Linked DNA regions of Homo sapiens: region 2 is linked to region 1. A link means that fine-mapping ties the variant in region 1 to the expression of a gene that starts in the linked region. Tissue or cell type: whole blood. Region 1 holds a variant in brackets; the other region holds the start of a gene. All regions are shown on one strand. Distances are between the middles of the regions.

Evidence for each region. PIP is the estimated chance that this variant, and not a neighbour inherited with it, causes the effect.
Region 2: it holds the start of ACSS3, and the variant in region 1 is fine-mapped to the expression of ACSS3 in whole blood (INTERVAL, PIP above 0.99).

The regions. Positions count from the first base shown.
Region 1 is chr12:80,938,620-80,946,941 of GRCh38, forward strand. No RefSeq gene overlaps it. Among named protein-coding and RNA genes, the nearest start is that of LIN7A, 4.8 kb to the left of the region's middle. The variant G/A (reference allele first, on the strand shown) is at 3,891.
Region 2 is chr12:81,075,701-81,079,700 of GRCh38, forward strand. ACSS3 (acyl-CoA synthetase short chain family member 3) reads left to right here and starts at 2,379. Exons shown (of 16, transcript NM_024560.4): 1 at 2,379-2,731. The coding sequence starts at 2,421.

The sequences.
Region 1 (8,322 bases):
GTTGTCTATGACTACGTTTGAAAAATATGTACCTAGCACTTTTCATGTTGATTTCTAACCAGTGGTTCAGAGATGCCACTTATCGATTGATTAACATATATGCCAGGAATTGAGATAGAAGAGTTACATTGCCTTGTGCCACGCCTTGATTTAGGAGTTCAATTTAGTCTCCGACTTCCTGTAGCCTGTAATCTAGTGGGAGATGGTGTTATTAAAAACCTGACTTTAGAGTCAGTTGATCAGGATTAAATTACGAGAGCCTTCAAATACTGGCTGTGACCTCTTCGCCCCAATAAAAAGGCTACTTTCACTATCTTGTCATAGTAGGGATTCATTTCCTGACTACGAAATCAAGAAACATAAAGAAACCTTCTATAAGCTGAATAGGGGTGACTGTGGGTGCAGGATTGGAAATGACAAAGCTGCCTCCATCTTGTTTCCTGTGACAGAGCTGAATTGTTTGGGCTAACAATAAACTCTAAAAGGCAGATACTGTTTTATAGCAAAATATTTGCATATAATTGATGCCATTTTCTTCTGATTACAGATAGGATTTCTGAAGGTCTTTTTCATTTTATAGTCTACAATTGAATTTTAAAAAACAACATTTCACCAATGTGGGAAAGCCAAAGATGATTGGCCATATATAGACTTAACAGACCCTAAGAACAAACCTAAAATAGTAGTTCGATATGTTTATTTTTATTTAGTATTTAAGAAAGAATGCTGATCTTGACATTTGAGTCTTAGTCATGTACTCTTCGGAAGTCACACAATCTCTCACTGATCCTGTTTCCTCCTCTGTCATACAATGGAAATAATATCATTCAATGTCACAGAGATCTGTCATATGAGGAAACTAATTCTACCTTGCAATCTCACAGAGTTTTATGAGGGTCTAATGGAGTCATACATGTGACTGTGCTTTGAAAACAGTAAAGAATATACAAATTTATTTATACAAGCATACATCCCCTGGAACCGTGTGGTAAGCTCTGTGCTAGGTGCTAACCATGCAAAGATTAATGAGATGGCCCCCTTTCTGCCCAGTCTTGCTTGGGAGACAGTGAGCAAACCATAAGCTTCTGTGCAGTACTCTAAGCACTATTAAAAGGAAGTGCCCTCGGTGGCCAGAGGTTGCAAAAACAACTTTGGTTTTTTACCGTTATTCACATGCCCTGAATTAAGCAACAGAAAGAAGTTGAGATGAGCGCAATGATACCAGAGTGTGTTACAAGCTTTTGCACAAAGTTATTAAACCTCACTCGGTAACTGAGGATAAAAGAACATACAAATCCCTTGACTTCTAATGTAGTTATTTTACAACATCCTTTATTAGGGAATATGTATTTAAGCAGCTTGATTCATCAGCCCAAAAGTCATAAATTGTACCCATTCCAACACAAATCCCTGATTGTGGTGTCAGTGAAGGTAGAGTTTTCTTTGTCTTTTTGTTTCCTAATGCATCCTCAGGACTAAACATTTCATAGCATATTTCTGGACTTCTGCCTTGAGCTTCCTATTTGAAATTTGCTCTGTCATTCTTTCTCTGTGTTGACTCTGTAGGGTTGTTGTTGTTTTTAAATCAAGATTAAAAGAGAAATTAAAAGGAAGCATAAATCACCATAAATTCATCTGTTATTATTTTTAGTAGTGGAAAGTTCATTCCCTTTAGCTTATGTCTACACAGGTGTAGAAAATTAATAAAAATTCATTATCCATTAGAATTTGTTTTTATGAATAAATACTATCTCTCCAATAATATTTGTGAATTTCGTTTTGAGACATGCAGGGATATACTTGATCTAGTCACATGCCAGTTGCTTTGCTGTGTATTTACCTGAGAATTGTTAAAATATTTGTAATTATGCTTTTATCTTAGCTATTTGGTTACAAAATCACTACACTCTTTCATTAAATGATATGTAGAAATTTAGTTTAATGGTAACTATATTTTCATGGAGTTAACTAATTCAATAAATACTTATTGAGCACTTATATGTGCCAGACTTGGTGCTAAGTTGGTCTCTCTTTCCCTTTCTTTCCAGCCCAGAGAAGTAGGTATTTTTATGCCGTTTTGAAGATAAGTAAACTGAAGCTCACAGAGGTTACACAACTTGCTTAAGAATAGTAGCACCTGGCTTCACAATCTCCTGTGCTTTCCACTAAGAAACATCACACTTTGTTCTTTTTTTTTTTTTTTTTTTTTTTTTGAGATGGAGTCTCACTCTGTCGCACAGGCTGCAGTGCAGTGGCGCGATTTCTGCTCACTGCAACCTTCGCCCGCGGGGTTCAAGCGATTCTCCTGACTCAGCCTCCCAAATAGTTGGGCCTACAGGCGCCCGCCACCATGCCTAGCTAATTTTTGTGTTTTTTATGGAGGCGGGGCTTCACCATTATGGTCAGGCTGGCCTCGAACTCCTGACCTCAAGTGATCCGTCTCCTCAGCCTCCCAAAGTGCTGGGATTACAGGCATGAACCACCACGCTGGGCCTCATCACACTTTATTCTATGTTGTTGAAGATTTAGTGATTTCAGCCTTTTATTTCAGAATTCCAGATAAGTATATATATGGTTATAAAATCTTTTAAGAGATATATAAATATATATCTATTAAGATATATATTTTTAAGAGATATAAATATATATTATAAATATATTTTAATATAATATTAATGTATTTAATACATGTGAAATATATTTAATACATATATATGATATATTATATGTATATATACACACACACATGTCTTTTCTCTCTCTCTTTTATTTTGTGTGTGTGTTGGCTTGAGACATAGAGAGAGGAATGGATGAAGGGAAGTTAGGTCAAAGGACAAAAGAACTATGATACTGGTTCCATTATATATACATATAGGTTAATATTTAAACAACTGCCTATTTGATATATAAAATCTGTTCTTAACAAAATCATTCAAAGCTATGTTAAGGTCGGTTTCACTTAATTGAATTTTTAAAAATTATATGACAAAATCTAGAGAAGGTTTGCATAGAGCATTAGCATACCAAGGAAATGTGTTTAGTTAGATTATAAATGAAGTATAATGAGCACAGTTTCATATGAGAAAATAGCACCTTCAAACTGGAGTTCTTTCAGCCTGGGTGTTAGAAATTGTTTTTGACTGATTCAAGATAACATGTTATCTTTCTTAATTCATACAGCTTTGTCAAAACAGCACTAGATTAAGATGAAGTGCCAACCAATACTTTGAAATTTAAATGTTTATTTTTTAAAACCATCATAGAATATCTTACTATATTTAGTTTATCTTTTTTTTTTGATAACTACTTATTTGTCTGTTCATTCAACAAACACTTAATATACTGACTATATGCCAAGCACTGTACTAGGCATTGGGGTATTGCAGTGAAGAAGAAAAATTTCCTGTTCTCACTTGGCTTGTATTCTCTAAGGAAGAGAAAGTCAATAAACAAACAAGAAAGAGAGCAATTAGTGACTAAGTATTGTGCAAAGAATGAATAAATTGATGACTAAACTAGATCTAGAATAATGTCAGAATTACAAAAGACAGGGATAGGGAGAATGGCCTTATAGGGAGCAGGAGAGAAAAGCCAGGGATGAGGAAGCAGGCACAGTGTGTATTTGGGTAAAATCGGCAGTTCATTTTGGAGTATAATTAAAAAAAAAACAAGCCTAAATAGAGCTATTGAGAGTTAGGTGGTGGAAGGTAATATAATTAATGAACAGAAATACAATGAACCTTTCATTAATTTCTTTGTGCCAACCATACAATAAAATGTATGAATACAATCTATGCTAAGAAAAATATTTGTATCATAGCATCTGCATTAAAAATTACTAACTTCAGAATGAAGAGTTACTAATTCAGAGTTAGATGTTAAAATATTTC[G/A]GATGAAATTAAAATATTAAAAGTAAATTCTAAGAGTGGGCGCGGTGGCTCATGCCTGTAACCCCAGCACTTGGGGAGGCCAAGGCGGGTGGATCACCTGAGGTCGGGAGTTCGAGACCAGCCTAACCAACATGGAGAAACCCCGTCTCTACTAAAAATACAAAATTAGCCAGGCATGGTGGTGCATGCCTGTAATCCCAGCTACTCGGGAGGCTGAGGCAGGAGAATGGCTTGAACCCAGGAGGCAGAGGTTGAGGTGATCTGAGATCACGCCATTGCACTCCAGCCTGGGCAAAAAAAAAGCAAAACTATCTCAAAAAAAAAAAAAAAAAGGAAATTCTAATTATTATTATTTTTTATTTTCTCCGAAAGAAATAACACTTCTCTGTTTTCACAGTTAGAAGTTATGACTGATCTTTCAATAATGAAATTTAAATTCAAAGCTTAGTTTTTTGTTTTTCTTTATTCATCCCAAATTCATATTTACATCTCTCGCGAATGTCTAGAAATACAAGAAATATTAAACAAACTAATTTTTAAAAGTAAAGCAGTCTCTTCTCACATTTGCTCAGGAGATGATATTTCTAAACTATTAGAACTCACAAACTTTAACAATTTAAAAAACATGTTTATTACCATTGTCATCTAAACATTTTAAATATATTTAACAGTGAGTAAAAAGTTACGCTTTTGTCCAACAAATTAAGCACCTGCAATATGCTAGGCACTATTCTGTGCCTGGAACTTAGTTTTGATGAAGAGAGACAGATAAAATACAAATTAGCCATTCAATCAGATAATCTTAGATATTGATTATCATGAACATTGATGTGTTGAAGCCTATTCACACTGTATGTGAGACCCAATAATGTGCATTTTGTCTCAACATCACTTTCAGTTATATCACATTGGTATCTTTTGATTGACCATGGTGGCAGTATTTAAACCATTGGGATTGGTAAATACTCTATTCCAATTTTTTTTTCTCCCTCTAGAGAGCCACTTGTTAAACATTTACCAGCATACCACAAAGTATATGATGACAATAAAATAGGATGTTGTGATGAAATATACAGCAGGGAAAGAGGTTACTTTAGAGTGGTCAGGGAAAAAGTCACATTGTACTTAATAGAACATTTTTTAAAATAACAAATCTGCACTGCACTTGATGTGTATGTACTGACTAGGACACAGGACTAGAGATGGAGTTAGAAGTAGGAGACATTCATATTTTTATGGAGTTTACAAAACAATTGGAAAATAAAAGCATAAAATTAATTACAAAATGATATATCAATAATAAACAATACTATAAATTTATATGTGTTAAAGGGATACAGAAATAAAAAAGGTAAGTGTGGATTGTGATGACTTTCTGGAAGCAATTTATGTTGACTTCCAGAAGAAACTTAGAAATATTTACTTTCTTGCATGTAGATAGGAGAATGTTTTACCTTTGAGCAGAGAGAGCTACTCTTTGCAACTTTGAATCAGAGGATTGCTAAGTAGACCAGGAACTTCTTCTTCTTCTTCTTCTTTTTTTTTTTTTTTTTTGCATTCCTGTATGTGTTTTATTTCATTTTTATTTTTATAAAATAAAAGGAATCTAAGGAATTTCATAAAAAACTAAAGAAAGAGGAGGGGCAAAATGAATATAATAGAGTCTCAGTGTGGCTGGGGAATCTTACCATGGTGAAGGGACAACACTGCCACCTGATACTTGGAAAGGACATTAATGATAGCTAGGACTTGTTTGTTTGGGACGCTGGCTTTATTTAAAACATGGTTAAAATGGCTTTCTCTTGAGGAGCACCTCAATATCTGACTTCTATCCCTTTAAATATAGCTTAACTTACTCCTTCCACCAGCAAAATTTATCTCTAATTTTGGTAGTATGGAATTAATGAAAGATATTAGGAAGAAACAGATGAACAGGCCATCTTCAAATTCTTCACATTCTTACACTGAACAGTAATTGGGGCTAGTAACAGAATTTACTCTAAGTGTGCTGGGAAACATACATGTCAGTAATTAGCAAGTTTAAGAGCTAAATGCACAATTAGCATGGACAGCACATTCAGTAGAGAATTCCAAACTCTCTTTAGTTTTATCCTCCAATGCTCTAATTTGGAGCAAAAAATGCTATAATTTTAGTTAGTTTATATTTAAATATCATCTTTCTGGGCCCAGCCTAAAACATAGAGTGCCCTTTTCTCAAAACTAATTAGGAGGATCAAATTATGCTCCTCTAAAACTGAGTTCCTTACTCTCAACTTCTGTGGTTTCCTGGCTTTTCTGGTCCTGGAGGAACTCTTACACTCTTGCCCCTCAGGTGGGCCTTTCTGACCCTGTAATCTCCTTATACCATTCCTGAGTCTATGCCATTACACAAGGCAGATCCACTTCCTGAAATGCAGTATCTCTGAGAAGTTTCCTCTTCTAAAGTTTTCTTAATTTTGCTTATTGCTTTAAGCATTTACTCACATAATAAATCCAGTTGTGACTTTATTGTAGTCTTTTAGGGATTTAACTAGAATGGGAGCAAACGAGGCAATTGAAGATGGTTTTAACTCTATGTTAGTATCTCAAGGCTCCTGTCACCCAGAATATTGCATAGATTAATTGTGGTAAACCAACCTGAATATTTTTATTTAGACCTCAAATCAAAGAAATCCCCAAAAAGTAGAGACAGCAAGCAAATCTCTGCCATCTTTATCAAGGTAAGATAAGCAAACAAACTATTAACTCTTTTATATATCTTATATATTCTTTCCTTTACAAGAGTTTTTGTTTTGGAATTTTAAACATAAGACAATGCACATGTCAAACAATTCAAAAGGTACTGCAGAAACCCACTCAATCACAAGTCATCAATGTTAAGAAGGATTTTTTTTGTATATTTAATACCATATATTGTATGAAATATATATAACATATATTACATGTGCACATATCTTTTTAAAATTCCAAGTAGAATTCTACTGTGCACTATATTTTGCATATTTATTTATTTTATTTTAGTGATATTTTCATATCAATACATATAGATCTATATAATTCTTCTTAACTACTTCATAACATTTCATTAAAATAGCCTGTCATAGGTGTACTCTCCGGTTGTTTCTAGGCTTTTGCTATCTCAAACAGGGCTATGAATGAAAATCAGTCTTGTTTATAGCATCTTTATAAACATGAACTCCACTCAATTATGACCTTGTCATTTTGAATAATCCAGTGCTAATGTGGCCATTTTCAATTTTGTGCTTCCAGATTATAATACCTGCGATGGATTTATTCCTGCTTCATTGCATGCATTCTTTCATATGCCATTTGTTACCACTTATTTATAAAAATGTCATATTTAATTGAATTTATAAAACCTAAAGTGATTAAAAGCAAAAAACTAGTCACCATAGACTGATGACAATTTTTCCATTTGAAATACGTGGTATCATGCACTATCCAGCTGACTATTCAGTAAGTCAAGAGATCATGACAATAATTTTCTACTAAGAAACAAATGGTATATATGTCTGAAGGAAGATAAAAATTAAAAGCCTAAAAGTACCGCTTTTTGCAGTGACTCACGCCTGTAATCCCAGCATTTTGGGAGGCCAAGGCGGGCGGATCACAAGGTAAGGAGATACAGACCATCCTGGCCAACATGGTGAAACCCCGTCTCTACTAAAAATACAAAAATTAGCTGGGCCTGGTGGTGCACACCTGCAATCCCAGCTACTCAGGAGGCTGAGGCAGGAGAATTGCTTGAACAGGGGAGTCGGAGGTTGCAGTGAGCCGAGATCGCGCCACTGCACTCCAGCCTGGTGGTGACAGACCAAGACTCCAACTAGGAAAAAAAAGTATGTATTTATCATGTACCACATGATGTTTTTAAGTATATACATCACAGAATGACATGTCTAGCTAATTAACATATGTATTAACTCATCATATTATTATTATAGTGATGAGAACACTTTACATCCACTCTCTTATGTCAAGAATACATAGATTACTAACTGTAGTCATTATGCTGTACAGTAGAGCCACTTTTAGATATTTGTTTTATTGAACATTTTATTTCCATTAAATGAAATAGTATAGGAACACAATGAAAACACAGAGATGTTTAAGTACTTTCATTTTCAAATAAAATGACATGTTGATTTATTAACTGAATCAAAAAGCTAAGTACAACTTAAAACAATAAATACTATTCTTTCATTAAATTTTATTAGTAGTTAGTAATGCAAAGACTATTTTAAAAGCTAGTGCATATAGTGCTCTCTACTGGCCTTATCTTTATTACAACTACAATCAGTGTCGAGTTTGTAGTTATATGGGAACCATCATGAAAATCTTCTATACTGCAACTACAATCATCGTCAAATTTGTAGTTATGTAGGAAACATCATGATAAACTTCTGTCTCC
Region 2 (4,000 bases), 130 kb after region 1:
TGCTCTACCTGTACACTGAACACTCTCAAAACCAGACCCACTGCATTTGCTGGATTGTGTCTACACTTATGCTCTCCCTTCAGCCTGAAATGGAGCTTACAGTAACAATCTATTGTATACAATTACTTTCAAAAGAAAAAATGGTATACTGATGGGTCCAGAAAAAGTGGTTTCATCTGGCGATACGGGGGTCTAACTTTGCCTCATGTGATCTTGTAATCAGTTCCTTGTTTTTAAGCTCTGAACTTCATACTTCCTTCTGAACCTTCAGAGGAACCCAGCACCTCCAAAACTTGAGACATACCAGGTTCCTAAGGAGAAAATGGATTCTCCTTAGGAAAATCTATTTTCTCCTCCACAAGCTCCTCCTCCCACTTTTAAATCATATTCCACAGATTCATCTTCTTTCTATTCTTTCATTTGGTTTCTTTTCTTTTCCTGTTCTCTTTATCCTTGTAGGATTTTTACCACGACAACCGCCCTCTTTGATTCTCTTTCAGTGGAGTTTCTTTAAGGAGAAGAATGAATGTGGCTATTCAATTTGTCATATTTTACTGGAATTCTAAGATTTTTTTTTTTTTTTTAAAGTAGAAGATACTCAGCCTGGAATTAAAATGGTGGACTTTGGAGTCAGATTCCCCTCCTTGTTCAAGTTGTGGCACAGAGATAAAATGATCGTATTTGCACAGTATCCTGGAGTGAGTGACAGGATTAGAGTGGGTTTTCCCCTAGCCCTCCACCTTGAGGTGTCAGTAAATTGTATCACGGCATATCTGTAATTCAAAGCATCTGGGCTTTGAAATACTGGGCATCCATAAAGTTTGAATCCTGACTGTTTCACTTGCTAGCTGCGTGGCCTTGGGCAAGTCGATCTATCTCTATACTAGCTCCATTTGTAAACATGGGATTATGATTCCCACTTCTTGGTACTTTCATGAGAATTACAGGAGCTAACATTTGTTTAAAGTGCCCAGTATAATGTGAACACATGCTAGGTGCCAATAATAAATCTGTCGTTCTGGAAGGATGAAGAGGTTAAATGGCTTTGTAACTTTCTCTGGATTTAAATGGTGACTGTGTCTTTGGCCATTCGACATTATTTGATTTGAGACCTTTGGAAGGACTAAAGTAGACTGCAGATGTCAGGGAAAAGTCTAGTGCCTTGCCTCTCAGTGGAAAGGGAGGTGGTTATTTAAAGAAATATTCTCTGTTTTGCATTGCACTTACCTCTGTTCTGTTTAGCCTTTATCTCCACATTATTCTTTTCCTGCAGAATCATTTGTTTACGGATTCTCAAGTTATGATCCTTCCCAAGGTCAGGGGCATGCCACTATTTCTCACCTCAGATTTGGAAATACGTATCTTTACATTTAAAACTGCAAATACTGTCACACCAAGACAGAATGTGTTTGGCATAATATTAAGGCAAAAGATTGCATCTGAATCTCGCTAAAGCATGAATAATAGCGGAGCTTGACGAATGTTAAACCTAGACAGTACTATATACCACCTTTCTTTTTACATTTTCCCAGTTTCCTCTTTTGATTCATCTTTACTTACTTCCTATTTTTGTTTTTTGTTTATTTGTTTGTTTTGTTTTCTCATTAGAAAAGCCACAGAAACTCCAAGCAGGCAAATTAGAAGGGAGGCAATGCAACAAGTCCTATCTGTTCTCTGTCTAGATCACATGCGGAGTCTGGTCAGCAGGTGAATCCGCATCCCAGTGGGGTCACCTTCCCTGTGACCTGTCAATCACCCCAAGAAGCACTTCCCAATTTGTCTGGCACAACCTCCTTCCACTCCTCCTACCCTCTCAGTGGTCAGGAAATCCCGGAGCAGTCCTTGCCCTGGAGCTGCTTGTGTTTTTAGTAACCAGGGACTGAGCTGATTTTGAAAAATCAATCAATCAATAAATAACAATCAAAGAGCCTTGCCTCAACGCACCGAGTTGCTGGTTTCCTGCAGGTCAGAGGCGATGCCACCTCCACCAACGACCTTCCAAAGATTAAACCAGCCGTGTACAAACTGCTGGATTGAAAATTGAGAGATGGGCCGTTGGCCTCCTCCTAGGAGTACTTGTGTGTTGAAATCGGAAGGACGTTCTGGAGTTTGAGCGCGATTTTTCCCGGAAGGCTGCGGGGTTGGAAGTGCATGTTGGGGTTTGGATCTCGTGCAGCAGCGCAACTAACCTGCTGCAACGGCGCTGTGACACCCCTGTCCCGGGGCCCCCACTTTAGCCTGTTGCTTCTCTGGTCGCTCCAGGTCGGTTTTTCCCGGCGACTCTAGTGTGGCTTCCAAACTTCTGGGCTCTGGGCTCACTTCGGAATTTGCCCCCGCCCCCTACTCCCTTCCCTCAGGCCCCAGGAAGTTGCAAGAGTACCATTTGTCGCACACTCGGGGACCGCGGGTGGCCGGAGGAGATGAAACCGTCTTGGCTGCAGTGTCGTAAAGTCACCAGCGCCGGGGGGCTCGGAGGGCCCTTGCCTGGGTCCTCTCCGGCCCGGGGAGCCGGTGCGGCCCTCAGGGCTTTAGTGGTCCCGGGCCCGCGGGGCGGTCTCGGGGGCCGGGGATGCAGGGCACTGTCCTCCGGCAGTGGCAGCGAGTACAAGACCCACTTCGCAGCCTCGGTGACCGACCCCGAGAGGTTCTGGGGCAAAGCTGCCGAGCAGATCAGCTGGTACAAGCCCTGGACCAAAACGCTGGAGAACAAACACTCGCCCTCTACCAGGTGGTGAGTGACTTCTGTGCCAACCCTGATCCCCCATCCCTGGTAACTTTTTGGGCGCCAGGACCTCCCTGGGACCTGGAATCTGGCATTCTATCACGAAAGAAAATTGAAACTGGAGATGTGTTCAGACCCCTCAATTCGTGTTTCATTTCAATTTCATAGTCAGTTCTCTTGCCTTCTGCTCTTGAGAGACCCTGTTACCTATTGTGAACCCAGTGTCCCATAAACGGGAGATTTACCTGACTGGCAAGGTTCTGCTTTGGCAGTGGGAATAGTAAGAAAACTAAAACAAGATCCTGCCTCCAGGGACCGCACAGTCTAGTAAGGGAGATACTAGGTAAACAAAGCAAGCGGTACAAGAAACTAGGGAATTATAACTAAGTATCCTCCTACTATGGGGAGGGAGGGTTAAGAAAAGACTTCAATAAAATCGCACCCCATAAGGGTTTGGAAGGATGGGTATGTCTTCTCGAAGTCGACAAGGCCCTAATTATCAAAGTTCTAGAGGTGAACAACAGCTTGAACTGTGACTGAGACAGTGACTGCCAATGATTGTGTTGGCTGGAGAGGTGGGAGGGGAAGTGGTGAGTCAGGGGCTGGGTCCGGAAGGGATTTATGTACTGTGCTAAGTAGCTTGGATCAGATCCATAGGCCTGTTGTGTATATGAAGCTGCAGTATGGGGTACCCAGAAAGAATACAGATAGATATAGGCCAGGTGATGTTAGAAGTCATGGTAGGAGTAAAGTCTTCCACCTGGAGTTGGAATTATAAGAAGTTATAAGCATGATTTTTTTTGCGTTACAACAAACGCAGACACATTGTAGAATAAATATCAAGCTTGCTAAGATACTGAGGGTGAAGCACAGTCAGTGATACTCTTAGAGTGTGGCTCCTTATGTGTCTGCCCTCTGGGGGTGTGATTGCTCTCATCTGCCAGCCATTAGAGAGGATGTTTCCTGTAAAAGTTTGAAAAACACTGCTCAGCAATGAGATGAGGGGAATGATATGGTCAGGTTTGCAGTGGACGAATGGCTCTGTGGTCAGAGCAAGAAATCTGGAATGGAATTGGCTAGAGCCTGTTCTGTGTCTCCACCATGCCCAGTCCTCTCAAAAGTGTGTGGGGATGACATGGTGTTCCCTTTAGAATCTGAGCACCTTGCCCCTTCCTATCAATTATTTTTTCAATAGTATTTGATCGGTCCTCTTTTCTGTGCCAGACAGTGAACAAGACACTGGGTGTTCAACAATGAGTAAAACCTAGTCCCTGCTTT